2 linked regions of the Homo sapiens genome follow. The protein of the gene in region 1 interacts with the protein of each later gene in a pairwise test. Each region holds a gene or a part of one and is shown on either strand. Other genes may lie near its edges. The genes, in order: TDP1 and DCLRE1B.

Region 1 (12,858 bases):
CAAGGTCTTTAAGAAAAGGGAGGAAGAACAGAAAATGCCAATGTGACACCCAAGGATACTACTGCGAGGAGGAGCCAAGGCAGAAACTGCTTGTTGCCTCCAGACAGCCATTCTCTCCTCCTTCCCTAACAAAAGGCTAATTCAGGAAAAGGTGTGCTAAGCTAAAAGACATTTCTAGCCTCTTTTACAGCTGGTTAGCATGCAGCTGAGCTCTGCTCAATGAAATAGATGCAGGTGTTGTGTGGGACTTCCAGGAAGGCTGCTTAGATGGGCATAGCTAGAATGTGGGCCTTTTTGTCCTTTTCCTCCTTTCCCCTTCCTGCTACCTGGAATAGATGAGTAAGCTGGAGCTCTAGCTGCCATACTGGGCCACGAGGTGACTCTGAAAACTGAAGTCACATACAAGGATGGTGGAACAGAAAGGGTAGGTGGATAAGTCTCTGAGAACCCTGGTGCCCCCATCTAGACCATAAATGTTTACCATCTGAATGTGTCACGCTGGAAACAATTTGTCTTATTTAAGCCATTGTTATTTTGAATATTCTTTTACATGCAGCTAAAACTAATTCTGTGTGTTACAGGTCAAAAAAAAAAAAAAAAGCCCCAAGTGCCAAAGCTGCTTGAAAAATTTTAACAGCATTTTATCTACTGTTAATGTCAAAGGTTTCCACAATCTGATGCCCTAAATGTACCAAGAATTTTGAGGACCCTGACAATCATTATTTCTTGTGTGTTTTCCTCCATCCTACTTGCTGTTATGGGAATCTGCCCCGTAAATGTGTTAGAAATAGGGAAGGGTGGCACCTGTGTGATGCCCTATTTGGTCTGTATTGCCTAACATGAGGCTGATGAAGTGCAGGCAGAAGGCCTAAAAATCCATCACCTCCAGAGCCTAGATAAGGGAAGGCCACAGATAAGCCTCCTTTCCTCATCTCAGAAACACAAAGGGATCCTCAAAACAGAACAGAATTGATGTGCTACGGAAAGCATGGCACGTTGGCGGCATGTTGGCACATTCACAGATCTAGAAGGTATGTGGAGATGGTATTTTCCTTCATATTAAGACTGGACATGAAATTCTGTTATTTGAGTTAAAGCCTGTCCTTATCTACTTCCTGAAAGAGCACAGAGGAAAATGCTAAAATCCGTAAAAAGAATGTGTAGGATTAAATAGATCAAAGAATGCTGTTTTCCGGATATAACTTAATGTCTGTGTGATTTCAACAGTTTCAAAAGAAAAACTCAAAAGATGAGTGGCTTTCACCTGAGAAATACAAATCTTAGGTGTCAAAGCCCCTTTACAGTTTATAGTGTTGTCTGTCACCCTGAGGAACTCACCTGAACTCTGGTGGATACTGTTTTACGAGCCAGTCCACGTCAAAGCAGTAGTTAAACTAGATGGGAGAAAAGAAGAGTAACTAAGCCATAGGTAATTCTGCCAAACAGTTCATAAGGAGAATTGTTTAGTTATTACATTTAAGGAAACTCTAAAATAGTGATACACTACATGTATTATTTATAAACCTGGAGGGTTATGCTGCAATACTAACAAACCTATAATTTATCTTAAATGCATGGTTAAAAGAACCTAAATGGAGCCAAGTACATGAGATAACAGGTTCCCAGGAAATTATCTCTGCATGTTTTGGCAGCATCTGTACTTGTCCGCAGGGTGTTATTACATTATGTCTAATGGCCCTGAGATTAATTTAAATAAAAGGATTTATAAATTTATCCCTTTTCCCCTAGGTGATTATAAAAAGACAGATACTGGAGACAAAGATCCCAGGACTTTCAGAAAAGAACATTTCCTTTCAGGCTAACTTATTAGCTAGCTTTGTACACAGCCACCTGGGACCAGACATTCACTAGGCTTCTAACAATTACATCTTAAATGCAAGTTCTGTACTGGTCTTACCCGTGGAGGCTCCTCCCCATACCTGGGTAATCCTGGACTTAGTAACTCAGTCGAGCTAACAGGGCATTTGCAAATGCTCCCCACCTTCCAAATGGAAACCAGGACTTTCAATGCCAAACCAAACATAAAGGAAGCCTGCCTTTCTTCAGGGACAGGGCCCTTTGGACCACTTACTTGTGGGTCTGGACCATTACATGATTTATCAAGACAAAGGGACTAGCTCAGTCAGGAAGGAGCCACTGAACATGAAAATTCACATTTTTCTAAATTAAATCAAACTTGACTTGGCCTTCACCACTCTATCCATACCTCACCACTCTATGCACCAGAGTTAACTCAGTCCCATGAGTTAATCAGTATCCCCAAAAGAAGTGTCCCATTCTAGTCTTTCAAGCTGGAATGTCCAAAGTGACTTCTTGGCCAGCGGAGGCTGACTTGAGTCAAATGCTCTCCTGATAGTGACATCCCCATTCTATGTTGATGGCCATGGATCTCATTACTGTGGCACTTGAGCCAGCCTCCAGGTATGTGCCATCTCAGTCTTTGAACAGGACTGAGATCCCCAAACTATGCCTCTCATATTTTCTTATGGAGTTGTTTAATTACCTGTCTACTTTCACCCAAAGAAAAAACAGCTTAAAGGTATACTCACCTGAGCTGAAGAAACAAGCGTCCCAAATAAAGGAGATAAAATATCTGAGAAGACAAAACATATATCAAATTCACACTCACAAAAATCCTCTAGTCATAATAATCACTACTAACTCATTCAACAGTCACTGACAATCAAGATCTGACTCAGAACACAGTAAGCTAAACAGTTACTACAAAGTCAGACTTTAATGTTTCATAAAATTCAAAAAAAATTTCCCTATGGTATTTAATATTTATCATACATTCTTTTATAAAACAATGCAAAACCAAAATCTACAACTTCAGTACTGAATGATTGATCAAGTTTAGAAACTCAATATGGACAATAATGATACATATTCTTTTCAGATCTCTGAACTTCTACCTCCTCCAAGTACCCATTCAAGTCCCTCTCCAGGAAATCTCCCAACTCAAGACTAGAAAAACTTTCTAGAAAGATTTTATAAATGTGGACAGTTTAGAAAGACTTTCCAGAAAGACTGGAAAGCACCTGTGGCCTGTGAATGAAAGGACAGAGGCACTCACAATTATCAACTCACATTCCTGGTGTTCCTGGTCATCTCTAGGGAAGTCTCACTTTGTACCCATTCAAGCTTTATGTTAGGTAAGTTGAAAGCTCACTTCTCAAACCATACCACGAGAGCAAGTACACCATCATCGTGACCTTCCATTACAACAGCCACATCTGTGGAGACCTGTTAGATGCCAGGCAGCACTCTTGGCACTTCCCATCCATTACTTACTCCTCATATCCATTTTCTAGGTGGGGTCTGTTATTTCTATTTTATATCGGAGGAGCCTTCTTAGGAGGCTGCCCACAGACACACAGCTAGAAAGGGGTACAGTCGGGGTTTGAACCTAGGCTGTCTGGCTCCAGCACCTTCGCTCATACCCACTAAACTGCCTCTGAGAATTAAGACTGGCTCATTCATTTGGCAAATATTTCCTGAGTGCTTCCTATCTTCTGGACATTGAGCTAGATGCTGGGGTAGAACGATTTTCAGAGAACAACAACAAAAAAATTGTTAAGGAAGGTTCTACCTTATTGGGAGAGTTGCAGAGATAAACTGCAAATATTCTTCCATTTGCCCCCACCAGCATGTATTTCTTCCCTTCTAAATTTTACCCATCTTTCAAAGGCCTTTTGAAGTCCCCCTTCCTCCATGAGATCTTCTAAGCCATCTACAATTATGGCACATGGTAGAGTGCTATAGCAAACAGCATGGATTCTGATGCCAGAATGTCATTACCAGCTCTACGACCTTGGGCACTTTTCTAAAGTGCAGATGCATCATTTATCCAAGGAATACGATTGTAACATCTACTCATAAGACTGTCCTGAGGATTAAAGGAGAAAATATATGTAAGAGCTCCTATCATGTTACCACAATACCTTGGTGCTAATTGCCGGTTATTTTATTATATAGAGCAAAACTTGGCAAAATTCTCTAAATATTTGTCAGTCTGTCTCAAACAAACAAAAAACTTGACAAAGTACCAAGATAAGAGATTCTCAAAAAGAAAACAACCTGTAGAACACTCTACAGTATGAAATACTCCAACATGTATACATCACACACAATATACAATTATATACTGGATATATAAAAAAAGAACAACACTGCTGACAGTGAACATTACTATTCTTAAATATGGGACAGGAAAAAAATCTGAAATAAGGGTAATAATGTTTATTGTATCTGCCATGTGAATATATTACACTGGTTACTTCATATATTTGCTCCCATTTTTCTGCATTTCCAGTTTAAAGATGAGCAAACTAAAATTCAGAGAATGTTAGGTCCTGTGTTAACAATCCATACAGCAAATGAGTGGTGAGGCCAGAAAGCAGATTCTAGAGCTCCTGCTCTTCCTCCTGCAGGTGCTCCCTGAGGAATAAGGAGAGCAAACTAAGGCCATCTTTTGATCCATAACTGAAACATCTATTTGCACTCAGGCACTATTTTGTTTTTTCTTCTTCTTCTTCACCAGGAACTAAAACCAGGCTTTTAAGCAGTGGTTCTCAAACTTGACTGGGCAGTAGAATCCCCTCAAGGGCTCGTGAAAACACAGACTGCAGGATCTCACCCTCAGAGTCCAATTTAATGAATCGGGAATGGGGCCCGAGAATTTGCATTTTAACAAGTTGCAGGTGATGCTGAGGCTGCTGGTCCAGGGCCCATGGAGAACTACTACTGTTGTCAAGTATTTGCTACCTTGTTGATAAACTGTTACTCATCAAGCTTCATCTTAAAAAGTTAAATAATGCTAAACATCGTGCTAAGTGATATAAGGGGTTGAGCTACAGGGTTTTGAGAACACACGCTCTGCCTGAGTTAAGTAAACAGTCTGCTGTTATACTAATGCACTTGCCTGTCAAGAATTTTTTTCCTGAAAGTAGTTAAGAACACAAAGAAGAGTTCTCAGAAACTATTCTAGGCTGCCCTCCTTGTTTCACGGAGGAGAGACTCTCAAGGGCAATTCAACAGCTCCTTGACACCCAGCATCCTCTTACCCTTGATGTGGAGGGCTCCAGAGTTATACTTTGGCTTAACTCCAGAGACTCTAGTGAGGTAAAACTGGAAGGGGTTCCCTTTATCCAGCATGTCCCAAATGTCCTGGCCCTCCCCTGATGTCTCATACTCGTCTTCCTCCTCTTTGAGCCTGTGGCAGGCGGGAGCGCCATGATTTTCAGTTCTTTGGGCAGTGCCGTCATTGGGAGCAGAGATGTCTTTCTCCTTTTTGATCACCACTTTCTCAGCCTGCTTCTGCGGCATTTCTGGTTGCAGCTCATCATCACTGCTGGACAGACACCAGCCGAGGTCCTCCTGGGAACCGCTTTTCTGCCTTTTGGGAGGTAAAACTGAATCTGTATTGCTGAATTTCACAGGTGATATTTTCCTCTTGTGTGCAGCTTTCTGGGCCTCGGAACAGGTGTACCTGGGCTCATTTGCTGCTCCTTGCCTGGCACAGAGAAGAGAAGAGGTAGATGGCTTGTCTGGTTTTGGCTTTTCTTCCTCACTTTCATCACTACTAGATATGGTCCACCTCCCATAATCGCCTTCCTGAGACATTATACTCCTGGAAATGAAAAGTGGAAACATCAGCATTTCCCATTCATCAGGGCATTGGCAAAATAACTTTATTGCTCTCAACTTCCCTGTCAGATGAGCTGACACCTTCCAGAGGCTGAACCACCTAACATCAGCTGCTTTTTGGGTGTTTATAAGCACATTACCAGAATCCACTATCAGATTCTGCCAAATCACAAGCAAAAGTCCTGGTCACCTTTCTTTTTTCTTCCTTTTTTTTTTTGAAACAGGGTCTCGCTCTGTCACCCAGCTGGAGTGGTGCAGTGGTTCAATCTCAGCTGACTGCAACATCTGCCTCCTGGGCTCAAGCAATCCTCCTGCCTCATCCTCTCGAATAGCTGGAACTACAGGTGCACGCCATCACGTCTGGCTAATTTTTTTTTTCTTTTTTTTTGGTAGAGACAGGGTTTCATTATTGTTGCCCAGGCTGGCCTTGAACTCCTGGACTCAAGAGATCCACCCACCTTGGCCTTCCAAAGTGCTGGGATTACAAGTATAAGCCACCATGCCTGGCCTTGGCTTTCAATCTAAACTTTGTTCTTAGATGTCCTAGGAAAGGGGGTTGAAGAATGCATCAAGACAAATGCCAAAATAAAACAAACATTCATTCTTGACCCCGAAACTTCCAATAAGCGTTTGGGATTAAGGTCCATTTAATCTATGTTCAAATGCTTAAGGTCAAATTGGAATTTACAAACCTAGCCTTCACCCAAGTACAGGCACCCACAGGACTTCAGTGATTATGTATGTCTTACTTCCCAAAAGACAACCCATTTACCATAAAGCTTAACAAAGTCTTCAAGAGGAAAGCCAAATGACCACTTAGGTATGTACATTATTTACACTACTTCCATGAGGACCCAACTAATTATAATTAGTTGGATATAATTATATCAAGATATAATTATCCTATTGGCTACATCATAAATCTACTAACACCTACACAGAAATAACTTGTACTGAAGCAACACACTTTTATTTTTTAAGCCCCACAGTCAAATTCTACTTTCTTGTTCTGAGAACAGGAAAGTACACGAAACAGTCACTTTTGCTGTTACCTACCAAATCTTGTCAATTCAGTGGTAAAGGACTATCTAAGTAGACTTTCCAGACAGCTAAAGAACAGTTCCTCAATGTGATACTTTTAACATTTTAGCACAAGACCCAGGGGAAAATTACAAAACTCAGTAGTCTGTGCTCAGATCAACAGTATCTTCGAGTTTCTGCTGTTTTAATGAGGCTGGAAAAGATGCATTGAGTGGAGTAAACCAAGATGGTGACACTCCCTTCACAAAACCTACATTCCCCAAAAAAGAGAATTCAACATTATTCTACATCAAAAGATTTGCAAATCAATACATATGCATATGTCTCTAGATGAGAACTAAAAATAAAAATCTTGGCTAAGGGGACCCCAGAGAAACCTTAAAAACTGAGTTCCGGGCCATGATGAGATGGGAGCTCAGACATGCCTGTTATATCCCCTCCCTTCTGCGGTTTAAACACAACTGACCAGAGATCGTAAGACTGGCAGAATAGATTCTGTGACAATATGACACTAAATCATAAACAAGACCTAAGGCCATGCCAAGCAAGGGTTAAATCACACACTGCTACCTTTAAACTATGTTCTACCTTCCACAAGGTTCTTTTTTCTTCAGCAGCTAAATAAGCACTGGCCTAGAGATAAGGAATATCTAAACAATTGCAGCTCACCTACTGCCAGATGCTTGACTAACTGACCCCTCTGGTTCCACAGGCCATGACTGCAGCTGTCATTGGACAATGGAGTAACTTTCTCCTGAAAAGAAACCACAGACTGGTTCTGACCAGTCCTCAGAGGCTGAGCACTGAGTGCCTTCATGTCTCTCCTTCACCTTTTGACAGAGGGCCTAATTGTAATTCATTCAAATGTTAAGTCTCCATCCCAAAGTGAACACGAGATGCACAAAACACACGTTTGCTCATTACACATGCACACGTGTCCCCCCTTGGTGAATATTCATAGCTCCTCCCACACCTGTTGAATACTATACTTGGCCAACCCATTCAGTATAAATCTCTGTTCTACCCTCTCCTCCCTGGGATGCCATTAAAGGTCTCTGCCTGAGGCTGTGCTTCCCAGCCTGTCAGGCCACACTGCAGGCTGTAGCCCTTTATAAGAACTAAGCTCTCCTTTCTAAATGTATAGATCTCATGATTTTTTCAGTGAACACAGCAGGGCGGGGCAGGGGAGGGTTGGAAATACTTTAAAGGTATCTATCCCTTTTCACAATTTCTCTCTTCACCTTTTTCAATTAACTACCAGTCAAGTTAAGCAAGCCTTCTGTAAATTACACATTTCAAGGAACTTTTATGCAAGAATGCATCAAGACAATAATCTGGCCCATTCTTCATGGCTCTGGGTCATTATTACCCTACCCAGCATGAACACACTATCTCACAGCCAAAGCCTTATTGACTGTAGAGAGGGCTGGGGCCACTTGCTCCTGTAATAGTGACCCTAGACTGTCTGGCTCTTTTGAGCCCTCATATCTGCTTTCTAAAAGTTTCTATTTATTTCTACACTCTGTCCAGCCCACTTCAAGGGGTTGTTAAAACTCATAGCATAGGTATATTTTCCCTAAATTGTTTCTAATCTGCTAAGGGTTAAGAAACTAGATAACTGGGTTTGTAGAACTGTATTGTCATGGTTAAAGGGGTCTGAGTGCCCAGTTTCCTCCATGAAAGAGATTCAGATTGATTTACTACTCAACACCTACTTAAGCAGCTCAGAGGTGGTTTTTTAAATGTTTTTAATCCTTCCGGTTTGAAAAAAAAACCCACAAAACCTTAGGTTCCTCTAGTGTTCTAGAGTCTAGAAGTTGCTGGATAGGGGTATTTAAGCTGTTACAATACACTTTGAAGAAACTATTTCAGTGGCTACAGTTTCGTGACTTTAAAGTTATCTAGGAACAAAAGAACCACCTTAGGAAAAACCACTCTCTGAATGTCAGCTCTAGGTTCCTTTGAATTCTACAACAGTTCTAAACCAAGGCGGTGAGTAATAGAATCTTCCATTACAGTCCTCAGGCTGTTCTCTATAGATACCTTGCCCATTCTAAAGTAAGTAGCAGGTCTTAGTTTTTGGTGAGAAAGGATTCAGCTTCCACTCTCAGAAGCAGTTGCAGAATCTTAAGAGGCTACCATAACAAATATGGTTGCCTGCATTATATAAATAAAATGGAATTTCCAAACACTGAGAATTCTGTGCTAAGTACATTATTATGTACTAAGAGTTGCTAAGGTAAAATCCTTAGCAACTCTGTGAATTATTTAGAGAATTTCAAAGGTTTTTAAGTTTTATCATTATCTCCATTTTCTAAAACCATATGGAAGTGGAATTCCCTCCAACAAAGTAGGACAAGAGGATAAAAAATAAAACAAAGCTTTAAAAAAGACATTTTCTAGAGAACAAAGCCTTTTTTTGGGGTTCTGCTCTATAAAGTTTTGGACCTGCTGAAACTCAAAAATATGCCTGAGTTGCTTATTACAACCTAATACAATTTATTGGGTTACAATTTAGTGCAACAGACTAATAAAATTGTGTCTTGTTGTTAAATGTAGCAGCTTACCAACCTCTTTATGACATCAAGGCTCCCGCCCAGTTGGAAAAGAACTGCTAGTAAACACCAATATCAAACTTTTACTTTGGATAACTGGTCACCAGTAACAGAATTTACTTCCCTCATAGAGGCTCTGGTGCCCAGCATTTCAGAGTGCTTTGTAATCAAGTCATACAGTTTTAAGAAATGTAGAACCTGAGAGCTTTCCTTCAATTGTTTATCATCTGTCTTCCCTGCCTGGGCAGTGCTTGGTACAGCATAAATCTGAAGTCACACTTTTTGTAAGTGGTACTGAAAGAATCAGAATACAATATAGCTGTGTTGATTCTGAATCCTGGCACTCAATCAGAACGGCACAGTGTTTCCTGAAGTGGAAGTGATTGGGACCTGACATTATGAAAGTACTTCCCTTTCCATTCCAATCCAAACTCCCTGTTTAAATCAAGAAGAAAGTTGTAGTGTTGTAGAAATGCTTTTAATCTTGATTTTGAACAAATAGCAGGGTTTGGGCTCTTCTGCAGGCACCAACAATTTTGTTTACCATCAACAGAAGGTATCTTATGGCTACGTTATATTTGAAATAGCAAAATAAAGTTTATTTTATGTAAAAGAATGATTGGATTCAAACAAAAATATTAAGTATATGATAGTCTATGTGATAGCGGCAGGAGGCAGACAAATCCCTAGGCAGATAGGGGCAGGGCCCCAGTGAAACCCCACCTGCAAACCAAAGACAGTTTAAAGCCTGAAAGCCAAGCTACAAGTGTTGGGTAAATCCACGGACCGGATTGATAACCCCTCTTCCCACTTGGCACACTTTCCTCTGATCAATCCCCACCCTTCACCTACTTTACATATATCTACCCTTCCCTAATTGGTTTTTTACATTGTCATGCCCACCTTTGAGTGGTGCCTTTGTTTTAGCCTTTTTTGCATACTCACAAACCATGGAGCACACACTCCCTCATTCTGAGCCCATAAAAGCCCCAGACTCAGTCACACCAGCGAACTGCCCACCTTGGGGTCAGGGCAGGGGCCATCCACTTGGGGTCCCGTCTCTGCTGAGAACTGTCTCATCACTGAGTAAAACTCACCTCCGCCCTTTTCCCCTTCGGTTGTCAGCCTAACCTCATTATTCTTGGACGCAGGACAAGAAATTCGGACCAGCTAAACAGCGAGTGCAAATAGAGCTATAACCCTGTAGCACTCCGTTCCGCTAGTGAAGCAATGGGAGAGGGAGCTGCTGGCTGCCACACACCCCCATTCATTGGGCTGCAGATGGTGGGACTAAAAGAGCTGTTAATACATCTCTATTTGCCTGGTGTCTCCAAGTGTTTGGGCACTACTGCATCCCCCTCGTCTGGACACCAGAATCTGCTACCAGAGTCACTTGCCATACACCCAGGCCATCCACAAGCCCTACATGGAGCCTGTGACTGGGCCAGCACTTGGAACAGCCAGCCGGGCCTCCAGGCTTGCTCACTCACTCACAAACCGACTCCTCGCGGGCTGAGCATGCAGTCATAGTGGCCACGGGATCTGGGCGGGGATGAAAGACAAATGCATTCTGCCAGGCTGAGTGGGCAGGGCACCTCCTGCAGCCAGCCCAGGGCTGGAGGTCTCCAGCTGGCAAAGCGGCCCTGAAATAAATCCTGTGTCATGTGTTAAGAGAATAAAGCAAACTGGGGAGAAGGCAGGTGAGTGTGAGTGAAATTTGGCAAACACTGCACTAACATGAAAAATCTAAGAAATCTTCCCACCAAATGCTAGCTCAGGACACTGTTAGCACTTTTATTAAGGACTTTAAAACATGTTGTGGATATAAAAGGGTACTCCATTTAGAGCTACTAGTGTTTCCTCACTCCCCACTATATGAGACCCAGCTGGGGCATTTCTCTTTCACCTCCAGCTGCTCCTTCTCATTGAGCTTAAAGACCATCAGCTGGGCCTGGAGGCCATGCTCCTCAATTGAGTTCCTGTGTGGCCAGTAATAGGCAAACATGGTCCCTTGTCTCAAACCCGGCCATGACTAGGGAGTAAATGTGCACTTGGGCAGGTTAGTTAACTGCTGAGCCTCAGTTTTTTAGTCTGTGAAATGGATATCATGCTTACCCCCTGGAGTTCATTCATTCAATAACTTACTGGGCAGCTATTATGTACCAAAAACTGGGAATGAGGCGTTAACAATATAGTTTCTACCCTAGCAGAGCTAATTTCAGGGCAGAAGAGACAGACCCACACATAAAAATTTTAATAGCCAAGATGAGTTAGACATTCATTACATTTTATAAGTATGAGACAGAAAAATAGGGGTGACCTTTGGAATATACTTAAAAAGTAACATATAAATGAGACCCAGAGGGCCAAAAGGAACCTGCTGTCTAAATGATGGGGTGAAGAGCATTCCCAAGTAGAGGGAACCCAGCCGGCAGAGGTGGGAAAGAGGTCATAAGAAAGGACTTAGGCAAGGCAGGCAGTGGTCCGAAGCGGGTGAGGGGAGAAGACTTGTTAAAGAAATTGGATTTTATGCAATGATCAATGGGACCCCACTGAGGGCTTTAAGAAGGGGAGTCCGATTTACATTTATTTTTTTGAGACAGAGTCTCGCTCTGCCGCTCAGGCTGGAGCGCAATGGCGCAATCTCGGCTCACTCCAACCTCTCTGCCTCCCAGGTTCAAGCAATTCTCCTACCTTAGCCTCCCGAGGAGCTAGGATTACAGGCATCCACCATCACGCTCGGCTAATTTTTCTATTTTTGTAGAGACGGGGTTTCACCATGTTGCCCGGGCTGATCTCAAACTCCTAACCTCAAGTGATTCAGCCGCCTCGGCCTCCCAAAGTGCTAGGATGACAGGCGTGAGTCACCGCGCCCGGCCTTCGATTTGCCTTTTTAATACAGCTGTGTGCTCCAACTCTGCGGAGAATGGGTTGAAGACAAAGGAAGTGAGAGGGCTCTTGCTGAAGGCGTTGGGGACGGAGCAGATTCAGAACGTGAGGAAGTGACGGCAGCAGCTGCTAACCTTACTGCGTGCTCATTTGGGGCCGGCCAGGCACGATTCGAAGCGCCTCACCAAGTGTAAACTCGCTTCACCCTCAGGACAACTCTATACTACGTACCGTGACCGTCCTCCTATACTGGGAAACCGAGCACAGAAAGCTTAAGCGCCTGGCACGTGGTGGGCGCTTTCCTACTCACTTTCTGGGACCACGCACCTGTAAGCTTAGGTCTGGGAATAAAAACCCGAGCAGGGGCCCCTAGCGCCGCGCCCCGGCAGGACACAGGTCTCCGCAGCGCCCGTGCGCGCCCCCTGAGGCGCTGTGATCGGAGGAAACCGAGGCCCCGGGGCCGAGGCGACCCTGCCCCATCTTCCCGGCCGCGCCGCTTCCTCGCGGTCCGCCTCCAGCCCTGCCGGACCCCAGCAGCCCGCGCACCGCGACTCGGCCAGGAGCAGGATCCCGGGCCCGACCGCAGCCCGCGAGAGACCGCACCGAGTCCGCGCCCACTGCCGCCCAACACGTACCTGAGGCGCACAGAACCAACGCTTGCCTCGGATCCCGCCCCTTCGGCGGCCGCCGCGCATGCGCGCAG
Region 2 (12,119 bases), on another chromosome or scaffold:
AGAGATGGTCACAGGAAGAAATGGCAATAATGGTTAGGAGGCAGCAAGGAGAATAAGGAGAACATCAATGTCACCTTCTTACCTTGAGGTGGGGGGAGAGAAAAAGAGCCTCTATGTGAGAAGCTGGCTGGAAAGCAGTGTGCTCAGAGGAGAGCCAGTCTTCAATTTAGGCAAGGAGGGTGATGGATACTTTCAGAAAAGATGCTGAGGACATAGAGGAATTTGCTGATCACAGAGCAGGAGACTTGAGAGCCTAGTGAAAGAGGGGAGGGAAGGCTGAGAATCCGGCCTTAAAGACTTGAACTCCTGACAGTGACTGCGGTTTAAACAGGGTATGGGGGATTCATTCTGCCACCTTTAGGGTGAGGCTGGGTGACCAGACCTGTTCTTATGGTCCAGGGAAGTTGCCCCAGGGTGTTGCAGCTTGGTATCCTTGATGCTCAAAGGTGTCTTCCTAAGGCTTCATATGTTGTAAGAGTTTGAGTCATAAAGCTTTGTCATAACCACTGATGTACATGGGAGAGGAGGTGAATCAAGGACTTAAAGAGATGAGAAGCAGCTTTGAAAATACCAGAGGCTGAAATCTGTAGTGATACCAGTTGTATGGTTCTTTTCTCCAGTGGCTCTGCCTTCCTTCTGTAGGAGTTGAAAAGGAGAATTCCAGGACTGATCCAAGGTTGTTGGTTTATACAGCTGGTGTGGCAGAAGAATCTAGAACCAGACCAAGCATAGTGTCTGGCCCTTAGTTTACCCACAATGTTTTGAAATGCACAGCCCAGACTGCTCTGCTCTGCACACCTCTTTGGATTCTCTGAGCCTCTGATTAACTACTTATTCTTCTGAGGTGTTTTGGCTTTGCCTTAGGATTTTACAGTTAAATTTACTCAGCACAGCATCTGAAGCTTATCATGATTTCACCCTACTCTTTTTCCATCTGTACAAATGCATCCTTGGATGCTTCAGGTAACTGCCCTTTTGGTTAGACTTGACTCCAGGAACCTCTCCCCCAGGAAGTACCTTCATCAGCCAATCTCTCAGATTTTTCTGGGCCTGAAAGATAGGATTAGCCAATGGCACTATCCAGGGCATGCACTGGACATGTCAGTCACTCCTCTGTAAACAGGATTTAAGGTATGTCAGGGAGTTTGAGGCCAAACATTTTTTTTTTCTGCGATAGGGTCTTGCTGTGTTGCCCATGCCGGAGTGCAGTGGTGTGATCTCGGCTCACTGCAACCTGCCTCCCTGGTTCAAGCAATTCTCCTGCCTTAGCCTCCCAAGTAGCTGGGACGACAGGCACATGCCACCACTCCCGGCTAACTTTTGTATTTTTAGTAGAGATGGGGTTTCACTATATTGGCCATGCTGGTCTTGAACTCCTGACCTCAGGTGATCTGCCCACCTTGGCCTCCCAAAGTGCTGGGATTACAGGCATGAGCCACTGCACCCAGCCAAAGGCAAAAACTTTTTCTTTTCTTTCTTTTTTTTTTTTTTAATGTATTGGATACTCTTATGAAGTGCTTTAGTTGCTTTATTCTATTTCATTCTCCTCCAAACCCTATGAGGTAGGCATTATTATTCCCACTCTACAAAAAGGAACTTTAAGCTGGAAAGCTGAGTAGCTTGCTAGAGATTATATACACAGCTAGTAAGTCACAGGATCACGATTCCAACCCAAGACATCTAACTTGAAAATCCATCTTTTCCACTATGGCCTACTATTGTGTGCACTGGGAGAATCCTGGGAGATAAGGCTGGAAGGATAGGTTGGGCCTTGTATCATGTGGACCTAAAATGTTCTGAATAGTTTGGGTTCTTGAATGTGTATGAGCAGAGAAAATGTTCTTAGTAAGAGGTGATTGAAGGATTTTTATCCCACCATTGAGAGGGAAATTAGAAAGCAGATGGTATGAGCCTGGAAGATGGGTGGGAATTTGAAGAAATTCAGCTGATCAAAGCTTTCCTTTCCTCCTGAAGACATGTTTTCTCCAAACTTTGTATCCCTGACTCCCTAAACAGCAGGCATCTGCTCTTGCTCTGGTGCTTTGTCTCCACAAAGCCTAATTAGTAGGGTGAGTGAGCTTAACCCAATTTCCTTCGCTCCTCAAAAACACACATTTCAATGAGCACATTGAGGATGGAGTAGCACAGGGGACCAATTTTTCATCCCACACTCTCCAAAGTTGTTATAAATTAACCAGAGGAGACAGGACTGGTAAGATAGCCATAATACAATAGTGTAAATAATGTAAGACACAGGCGAACCCAAGGCTAGCCAGAAATTTTGTGTGATTGAAAGATGATTCAATAAGCTATTTATCCAGAAGAACCAAGCCCAGAATCCTGGGAGCTTTTTGTGATCCAGTAGGTCAAGGCTATGTTCAAAGAAGACAAAGTTACCCAGGAATGAGACAGTCAAGATGGAAGGGTAGAGCTAAATGAAGGGTAGGCATTGTGGTCAAGATAAAGACAAGCTTAACCATTCTGAGAATCCCTCACAGGCAGCTGTTAGACTCAGATGTTTATAAGGGAGAGCAGCATCATTCTGTTCAGGTATAGGTGGGATCCCCTGGGGAAGAGAAAAGGGAAAGCACCATGAGTCTAAGACAAAACAGCTTGTGGTGGTTGGTGGTGGCTGAGGAGCATGAGGGGTGGGAGGCAGCTAATACACTGACAGGTGCTCACTGATGGTAACATCGAAAATATATGCACATGGGCTGGGCTGGGCACGGTGGCTCACACCTGTGATCCCTGCACTTTGGGAGGCCTAGGTGGGCGGATCACCTGAGGTCAGGAGTTCGAGACCAGCCTGGCCAACATGGTGAAACCCCATCTCTACTAAAAATACAAAAATTAGCCAGGTGTGGCAGTGCACGCCTGTAATCGCAGCTACTTGGGAGGCTGAGGCAAGAGAATTGAACCCAGGAGGCAGAGGTTGTGGTGAGCCAAGACAGTGCCATTGCATCCAGCCTGGGCAACAGAGTGAGACTCCTCAAAAAAAAAAAAAAAAAAAAAGAAAGGAAGAAAGAAAAAGAAAAGAGAAGAACAAGTGGAGTCACTCATCTGTTTCCTACCACAAAGGGCAATCTGGGTCAAGAGTAAGAGATGGCCTCCCAACACCAGCCAGGCAGATTTTTTTTCTGTAAGGGGACTTAAGCCATTGTCAGTCACCTTGTGGAAAAGTACAAGTTCTCCCACAGATCATCCATTAAATAACTAATGGATCTCTAGGGAACCTCCTTTTTCCCAGCACCTTCAAGCCTAATTGCAATATCTTCATACATCTATAGGATCATCTTTAGATTCTAAAAATAATTTAAATTGGCTATGTAAAGTATATGCAATGCAGCATTTTTATATGAGGGACTATTGGAAAATCAAACAACTGCTAATCTCTAGTATAAGAAGGCAGACATTTTTTCTTTTAGAATAGTATGGAATTTTCCCATTATGAAAACACAAACATGGCTGGGCACACGGGCTCATGCCTGTAATCCCAGCACTTTGGGAGGCCAAGGTAGGGGGGATCACTTGAGGCCAGGAGTTCAACACCAAGACCAGCCTGGGCAACATAGTGAAACTTCATCTCTACAAAAAAAAAAAAAAAAAAAAATTAGTTGGGCATGGTGGTGCATGCCTATAGTCCCAGGTACTCAAGAGGCTCAGGTGGGAGAATCTCTTGAGCCTGGGAGGTCGAGGCTGCAGTGAGTTATGGCTGTGCCACTGCACTCCAGCCTGAGTGACAGAGCTAAAACCTGTCTCCAAAAAAAAGCCAAACAAACAAATGCAAACATGCTACCAACAACTAAATTCCTCAAAGTCTTTTGCTTCCCCTCCCCTATCTGAATGCATATAGAACCCACTTGAAGGAACAGGTGTGACACAGCATGTGCCAAGAGTAGACGGGCTCCCTTGTTGCTAGAAGATAACGCCAATATGGGAACCCCTGTACTGAGAACTACCTTATCTCTCCCAGCCACCTTCGGCCGCCTAGAAGTCAGACAGCTAGAGGATGCTAGAGGAAGTCCAGCTAAATTTGCCCACACAGTTTAGTAGCTATTTATTAAGTTAACACATGAGATGATTTTCCATGTGTTAACATGTACCGTTCTTGTGATCTCATTTAAACTAATGAGTCTTCAAGGTATTTTAATGCTATCCTGTCTGCAGAAAAGATGGTCAGGAAACCTTTCTGGAGGGCAATTCAGCACAATTGGTATCAAGAACTTAAAACTATAATCTAACTCCAGTAATTTACTTTAAGGAAATAAAAATGCAAAATATATGCATAAGGTTGTTCATTGTAATATATGTAATTAGAAAAACAGTACACAAAATGTTGAATATGGGAATGGCTTAGTTAAGGTATACTCACATGATAGGGTATTATACAAATATTAAAAATGGCATTTTTGAACAATATCTAATAAGTGAAATGCTTAAGATATCAAGAAATTAAAATGTAGGCTATAAAATTCTATACAATATTACCTCAACTTTGAAAAACATTTACATATTTAATACATCTACATGCATAGAAAAAAAAACTAAAAGATAGCAAATCAATTAATCTACGAGGAATTAAAATTTTTTGTTTTTTTGACTTTCAAAGTTTCTTATGTTATATACAGATTAATTTCTTTCAAGAACCAGAAGCTAAAGAGAACCAAAATCTGAAAGACCCATCCTGTGGCAGTCACTGAGCTAGGAGAATTTTACCAATTATTCAATCTCCATAGTAATCATGAGAGGTAGGAATCTCAAGTCCATCTTACAGATGAGGAACTAGGCTCCACAATTTAAGTAATTGCTCAGGGTGCCACAGATTCGAGCCTAGGCAGTCCCCATGTTTCCTGCTGCACCAAATGCCTCACCTGCTGTGGCTCCTAATAGGACGTTGGGAGACTTACAACAAAGGTCATTGACAAAACAGAGCTGTGTATAGCTTTCCCAAGAGCAATTGCTTTCTAAACTCTCTATTTCTCTCTCAAAGCAGAAAACTCTTTTAAATCCCCTGGACAAGAAATGGAATCTTCTTCACTGCTAGGGCTCGAGGTTCCATCCCAAAGCAGTTTTGATCCAGACGCCCAGCTCCACAAGTCTGTGCCCTCTCAGAGCCTACTCCCTCATAGCCGTGGTATCAGCTATCCTGCTTACTAGTTTGGCATTTTGTCAGGTTATGAGCAGAAGGACAGGGCAGACTGCACACCCCCACCCCTTCCCGCCAGCTGGCTCCTTGGTCTCTTCCTTGGATACTAAAACAAACAGGCTGTGTGCACTGGCTCCCTACATAATCCAAGGGGTGAGGGGAGCAACAAATATCCCAGCTATGTGAACAATTGGAGGAATATCTGACAACACATTTGATATTTTGTAACTGTTTCAGCCAAATAGGGTCTCCAGGCTGGGGAGTCCCTTCACACCCAAAGCCTTGTTGTTCAGCTGGGCTCTAGGTACTGCCTTGGAGAGAGCTGCCCAACCCCCCAGCTGGCTCTGTTCCACATGGATCCCAGTGATACTGGGATACTGCACATCCTCATGAAGGACATAGAGGTAGAATTTTCACTACTGTTCCAAGACCTCTTCATCGCTTCCTGTTCCCTCCCAGAGGCAGAGACAGGAAAATTATTTGGATGGTCACAGCAAGTCAGTGACGTTCAGGATTGAAGCATGCAGCGCCATAGTTCATAATTTTAAAAATAGAACTCCCTAGGGATTTTGATCTGAGAAGAGGGAGAAGGGGACATGGAGAATGGCTCATGACACCACAAAACAGCAACAGCAATAACCTGGTCCTTTTTGATTCAGACTCTTTACCTCTTTCTGTACCCACATAAGATGATTGCATGTTCACAAAAGTTTGAGAAATACTGGGTTAAACAAGGTTAAACAGATTAAGTTACTGTAGGACTTCAAAGAACTTTTAATTTGCTCACGCATACTCCAAAGATTTTATAAAAAAAGTATTTCTTAAACTTAGTTATAAAAAGAAGGATTCCATAGGCACGAGGACCCCAGTGAACAAGTTTTGGGAAGTGCTGCTCCACGGTGGGCCCATAAGAGTCTTGTAAAGATAGAAAAGTAGGCCCCAAAAACAAACTCTTTCCCACCAGCCATCAGTTACTATCTTCAAAACTGCAGTGTGGGCTCAATGTTGTCATTCTGTACTCTCCTGTCTTCAGCAGGGTTTATGGTATTTTTCCACTTGCTGGTCAAATCTCCTGGAAGAATACCCTGCCTGGAAAAAGTTCACTGGAGTCAGAAGATATTTGAGTGCTAGACCCCTGAATTCAGTAGCTAGAAGAGGGGTGCCCTTGCTGCTGTGGGACAGGGGAGAACCATGGCCCATCCAGGCACTCTGATTCCCTGTGGCTTCTGGACCTCCATCATCATCTCCCATGGGTACCAAGGGGGACCCTAAACCAATTTCCTCCCTGGTTTTTTGAGAAATAAACTCCTCATCTGTAGACCTTAAGTGCACTGAAAATCCCAGTGGGGCCGTCAACATAGTCACCCTCTTTTGAGACTCACAGAAAGGCACTGCCTTGTTCCATTCTTTGCTATAGAGATCTGGGAACAACTGCTTCTTGATCCGCAAAGGATGGTGGGAAGGCTGCTTTTCAAGGTCCGCAGGCCAGGGAGAAAGTTTCTCTTTCTTGGCCTTCTTTGAGTCTCTGTCAGCTTGAGATTGATCAGCACTTTCCTCAGGGGATTCAAACACAACACCTTGGGTTCTCGGCCTCTTTAGCCTCCTTTCTAACAGCCAGAGAAGGCTTGGTTTTCTAGAGGAAGAACTCATGTATTGCTGTACAGAGTCCGGAATCAGGGGCACGGAGATCCTGGGGCTCAGACTGTCCTGAAAGCCTCCACAGGGCCGCCGACTTACAATGGGCACCACCTGGCAAGGCTTCAGTGCTGCGACAAAGGCACGAAGCTCGGAGTAAGAGGAATGGTCAGAGTAAGGGATGACGTGGATATCAGGGTGGGAGCTGTGGATTTTTCGGCTTGTGGGAAGGATAGCAATCGTAGGGTGGGTCTGGTTCCAACGCAGCATGTTGGAATGGCAGATCTCCATATGGTCTACTGCATGGATGCGGCCAGCCTTCTCCTCCACTGTGAACACATCTGCCAGGCCCAGTAGCTGTACCAACTCCAGGCGCCGAGGACTCAATACCACCCAGGTCTGAAACTCCAGGGCCAGCTGCTCCAGCAGTGATTCCTTTCCCAGGCTGTAGAGTCCTAAATAATGTTCAATGTATTGGGGAAAGTAAGAGAAGGAAGAAAATTAAGCTATTGGAAAATCCTAATAAATCAACAAAATGTTTAACAAAAATAGATACAATTCATGGAGAAATCCAGGGAGAATATCAAGGAAGAGGTGGCATTTGAGCTAAGACATATGAAAGGGAATGACACAGAATCCACTCATTCATTTAGTTCAACAAAAGAGAGCATCTAGCAAGTTTCAGGCACCATGAAAACTAATAAAGAAAACTGTCAGTCCTCAAGAAGTACTATCTACAAGGAGACCCAGAAAAACCACAATTAAGAGCAACGTTAAAGATATGTGTACAGGCCGGGCACTGTGGCTCACACCTGTAAGCCTACAATTTTAGGAGGCTGAGGCAGGAGGATTGCTTGAGCCCAGGAGTTCAAGACCAACCTGGGCAACCTGGCAAGACCCTGTCTCTACAAAAATAAACAAATAAGCATGTTGGTGCACGCCTATAGTTCCTGGTACACAGGAAGCTGACGCGGGAGGATCACTTGAGTCCGGGAGGTCCAGGCTGCAGTGAGCTGTGATCATGCCACTACCCTCCAGCCTGGGCAACAGAGTGAGACCCTGTCTCTTAAAAAAAAACAAAAAAAGTATACAGTATTGTATCTAACAGGTGATGGAGTTAGGGAACGTTAGGCTAAATCTTAAAGGATGGGCAAGGTTAACCTGGCAAGGAAAGGGTAGAAAGGGTATAGTGGAAAACATTTTAAGAGGGGTCAGTTTGCTGTTACTAAAGTAAAAAAGGAATTGATAAGAAATGATACCAGAGAGGCAAGCAAGGGCCATATAATAGAGCGTCTTATATGTACCGCTAAGAAGCTTGGACTTCATTGTGTAAGTGAAGGGGAGCCACTGAGTGTGAAGCAGGAAAATGGCTAATTCTAATCATAAGAATAATATGCTCAGAGCAGGGCTTTAAAAAGAAAAATATGGTAATAATATTATTTGACTGCCAGGATGAGAAGAAGCTGGAGTGGAAGTTTCAATTGAAGGGCCCAAATAGTACTTACAGAGAAAGAAATGGAGACATTAATTTGGGAAATGGTTATGGTAACAGATATGGGAGATGTTGTTTAATAGCTGTTCTCAGACTTTTTCTGAAGAAGTTTCAAATCCACAACCAGATTGTGAACGCCATAAAAAGAAGTATATATTATTTATATCCACTTTATTCCTGATTATGGTTCAAAATCTCACTCCTTGGGCACAAATGGAGCGGATTTTTCTTCTCTCTATATATATTCCCACTTCCACCTCCCCACAGGTCCTTCCCTACCAGACTGTGAGCCCTCCAAGTCAGAGACTATATTTTATTCATCTTTATATCCCCACTGCCTATTGGATACTTGGTACTTAGTGGGTAGAGGCTTATTACATATTTGCAAAATTAATTAAGGCTTACTATAGCATCCTCCTAGCCAGCTTTGCTTTTTTGAGAAAATTCTGCATTAAAATATTAAGAATGGTTAGGTCTTTATAAGTAGCTAAGCAATCCTGAGAGTAGAGGATATTTCTCAATCGATTTGGTAGTCACCCTGGAAGTTATATAATTTTTTCAATGCCTTTGTTTAGTCTCATTTTGAAACTCCTTTCAGAGTTGAGACATGTCCTTTTCAAATATTTATAATGGTGGCAAGTCTTTGTCCTTTTGTAGACTCACAAATTTGGAAACAACCAAAAAAGTAATTTAGAACCAAATCTATTACATTTATTTATTTTATAAAACAAAAATGTATTTTCATAAACTATTCCAAATGGCAACTCCAAGAAAGAGTCCTCAACAATGTTTTATACTATTTATAATCAGTACAACAAGCACAAACCTGTTTTTTCAGTATACTTAATTTAAAGCACAACGCTCACTTAAATATCTATGTTCTGATAAATTTCATTCATTCATATTGAATGCTTCTGTGTCAGGCATTAGTGTAGGCATTTGTGATACACCCATAATAAAACAGAGACTGCCATAGTGGAATTCACATTCTAGCAGGGGGAATCAGACAATAAAAAGTCCAATAAATACATAAATTATAGAATATATTGCAAGGTGATGAGTGCATATTGTCCCTCTTCTACTTAAAATCCTTCAATAGCTCTTGGTTGGGTTTAGGATCAAGTCCAAAATGGCTTAACAGCACTTCAGCCCCTCTTGCCTTTTCAGCCTCCTTGCCCACTGTGTGCCTGTCATACTGACTGCTGCTTCTCTGTTCCACAAACACACAAAGTCTCTTCCCATTTCCAGTGATGCTCTTAAGGAGTTTATGCTTGTGTGTGTGTGTGTGTGCACGCGTATGTGCATGGGCCAGAGGAAGTGCATGATAGACAACAAGTAAGCAATAGCATATTTAAAAATATATATAGTATATGAGTGCTATAAAAAAATGAAAAAAATGAATTGGTATGGATGATCAGGAGTTGGGAATGGGGATGGTGGGCAGGTTGCAGTTTTACTTATTTCATTCATTCATTCATTTATTGAGACAGGGTCTTGCTCTGTCATCCAGGCTGGAGTGCAATGGCACTTACATGGCTCACTGCAACCTTGACCTCCTACTGGACCCAGGCAATCCTCCTGTCTCAGTCCCCTGTGTAGCTGGGACCACAGGCACGCACCATCGTGCCCAACTGATTTTTAAATTTTTTGTAGAGACAGGGTCTTGCCATGTTGCCCAAGCTGGTCTCAAACGCCTGGGCTCAAATGACCCTCCCATCTTGGCCTCCCAAAGTGCTGGGATTATAGGCATGAACCACCACACCTAGCCAGGTTGCAATTTTAAATAAGGTGGTCAGTGTAGGAGAAAGTGAGAACTGCACAAAGATCTGAAAGATGTGAGAATCCTTAAAGAATCTAGTTCACTATCTACAGGTGACAGGAAACTGAAAGGAAACAACTCACCAATCTTTATGTTATGTTGTGGGTGTTTTCGAATGAGCTGGACAATCTGGTGGGCAGCTTCTTGTCGGGAAGGAAGAACCAGGGCTGGATTGCAATTGGTGTTGTCTAGGTATAAAGTATGGATCTGTTTCCCCAGTGTCAGGGCTGGCTCCTTTAGCATGGATGGTGTGTATCGAAAATCACCTGGAGGAATATGTACATGGGGGCAGAAGGTCAGAGACAAAAGAATAGAAGACAAGCCTCTCCTACCTCCAACAATAGACAGGCGTTTGCTTACTAGTCTGTGAAAAAACTATTATGTAGCCTGGCACTGAACTAGGCAGTATAGCTGCATGGTTTCTTTGTTGTAATGTCTCCATCCTACTCCTATTTTTCAATTACTCTTCACAAGGTTCGGACCCTTAAAGAGTGGGAAATCGGCCAGGCGCAGTGGCTCACACCTGTAATCCCAGCACTTTGGGGGGCCGAGCCAGGTGGATCACCTGAGGTCAGGAGTTCGAGACCAGCCTGGCCAACATGGTGAAACCCCGTCTCTACTAATAGTAAATACGAAAATTAGCTGGGCGTGGTGGCAGGCGCCTGTCATCCCAGCTACTTGGGAGGCTGAGGCAAGAGAATCACTTGAACCCAGAAGGCGGAGGTTGCAGTGAGCCACAATCACGCCACTGCACTCCAGCCTGGGTGACAAGAGTGAAACTCCGTCTCAAAAAGAAGAAGGAAAAAAAAACAGTGGGAAATCAGTTGAGATGGGGTCACTATGCTCATATGTGATGAAGTTAGAAGGCCTCCAGCGCCTCCAGACTTCTATTGAGTTAAGGCTGCTCAAGAAAAGTCTGCCAGGTGTGGTGGCTTGTGCCAATAATCCTAGCTACTGTGGAGGCTGAAGCGGGAGGATTGCTTGAGGTCAGGAGTTTGAGACCAGCCTCGGCAACACTGCGAGGCCCCAGTCTATACATTAAAAAAAAAAAAAAAAAAAAAAAAAAAAAACATCTAGTCTGGAGAAGTCACTGGGATTCCTTGAGAGGCCCACCTGTGTAGAGGATGGTTCCAAAATATCCTTCAAAGAGAAACATGACAGAACCAGGACAGTGATTGGCATCGAGGAGGGTTACGGTCATGGTCTCTTGTCCAATTTCATCTAGGGGTAATACATGGCTCTCACCAACCTCCAGGGCTTGGATCCATTGCTTAGATACCTGAGAAAACAGTTAGTCATCCCAGTGACCACTGACTCCTCTCCGTTACCTCCCCGGGTCAGGGACTATCCCTTACATGAATCAGGAAAGCTGACCAAATCCTGAGCCACCGGGAGCAGAAGCTGTAATGGGGATTCCCAAGCAATCTGCCCTTCCTCCTTCCACTTCCCATCCCACCCTTTGTACAATTTAAGAGTTCAGCTGGCCGGGCGTGGTGGCTCACGCCTGTAATCCCAGCACTTTGGGAGGCTGAGGCGGGTGGATCACGAGGTCAGGAGATCGAGACCATCCTGGCTAACACGGTGAAACCCCGTCTCTACTAAAAAATACAAAAAAAATTAGCCAGGCGTGGTGGCGGGCGCCTGTAGTCCCAGCTACTCGGGAGGCTGAGGCAGGAGAATGGCGTGAACCCGGGAGGCGGAGCTTGCAGTGAGCCGAGTTTGCGCCACTGCACTCCAGCCTGGGCGACAGAGCGAGACTCCATCTCAAAAAAAAAAAAAGAGTTCAGCAAACAGTCTAGTCAGCAATTCCCAAACTTACTCCTGATCTTAATCTCTTGGAGACTTAAGGGTGGGGTGGGGAGAGAGCTGGAGAACCACCCAGCACATTAGGTGGATTCTTAAGATGAGGCAAGTTTAGGCGGGGCGTGGTGGCTCACGCTTGTAATCCCAGCACTTGGGGAGGCTGAGGCGGGCGGATCACTTAAGGTCAGGAGTTAGAGAACAGCCTGGCCAACATGGTGAAACCC

Evidence for each region.
Region 2: the proteins of TDP1 (region 1) and DCLRE1B interact in binary tests that used the Homo sapiens proteins (3 or more experiments, as listed by UniProt).

Annotation. Positions count from the first base shown.
Region 1 is NC_000014.9:89,955,903-89,968,760, reverse strand, and holds the start of TDP1 (tyrosyl-DNA phosphodiesterase 1), read right to left. Parts: upstream 12,835-12,858; 5' UTR 12,791-12,834; exon of another isoform or gene 12,184-12,790; 5' UTR 11,961-12,183; exon of another isoform or gene 10,364-11,960; intron 8,983-10,363; exon of another isoform or gene 8,755-8,982; intron 5,654-8,754; 5' UTR 5,647-5,653; coding exon 5,088-5,646; intron 2,615-5,087; coding exon 2,571-2,614; intron 1,395-2,570; coding exon 1,339-1,394; intron 1-1,338. UniProt on the Homo sapiens protein: DNA repair enzyme that can remove a variety of covalent adducts from DNA through hydrolysis of a 3'-phosphodiester bond, giving rise to DNA with a free 3' phosphate.
Region 2 is NC_000001.11:113,906,248-113,918,366, reverse strand, and holds the end of DCLRE1B (5' exonuclease Apollo), read right to left. Parts: intron 11,372-12,119; coding exon 11,206-11,371; intron 10,359-11,205; coding exon 10,176-10,358; intron 7,237-10,175; coding exon 6,176-7,236; 3' UTR 4,281-6,175; downstream 1-4,280.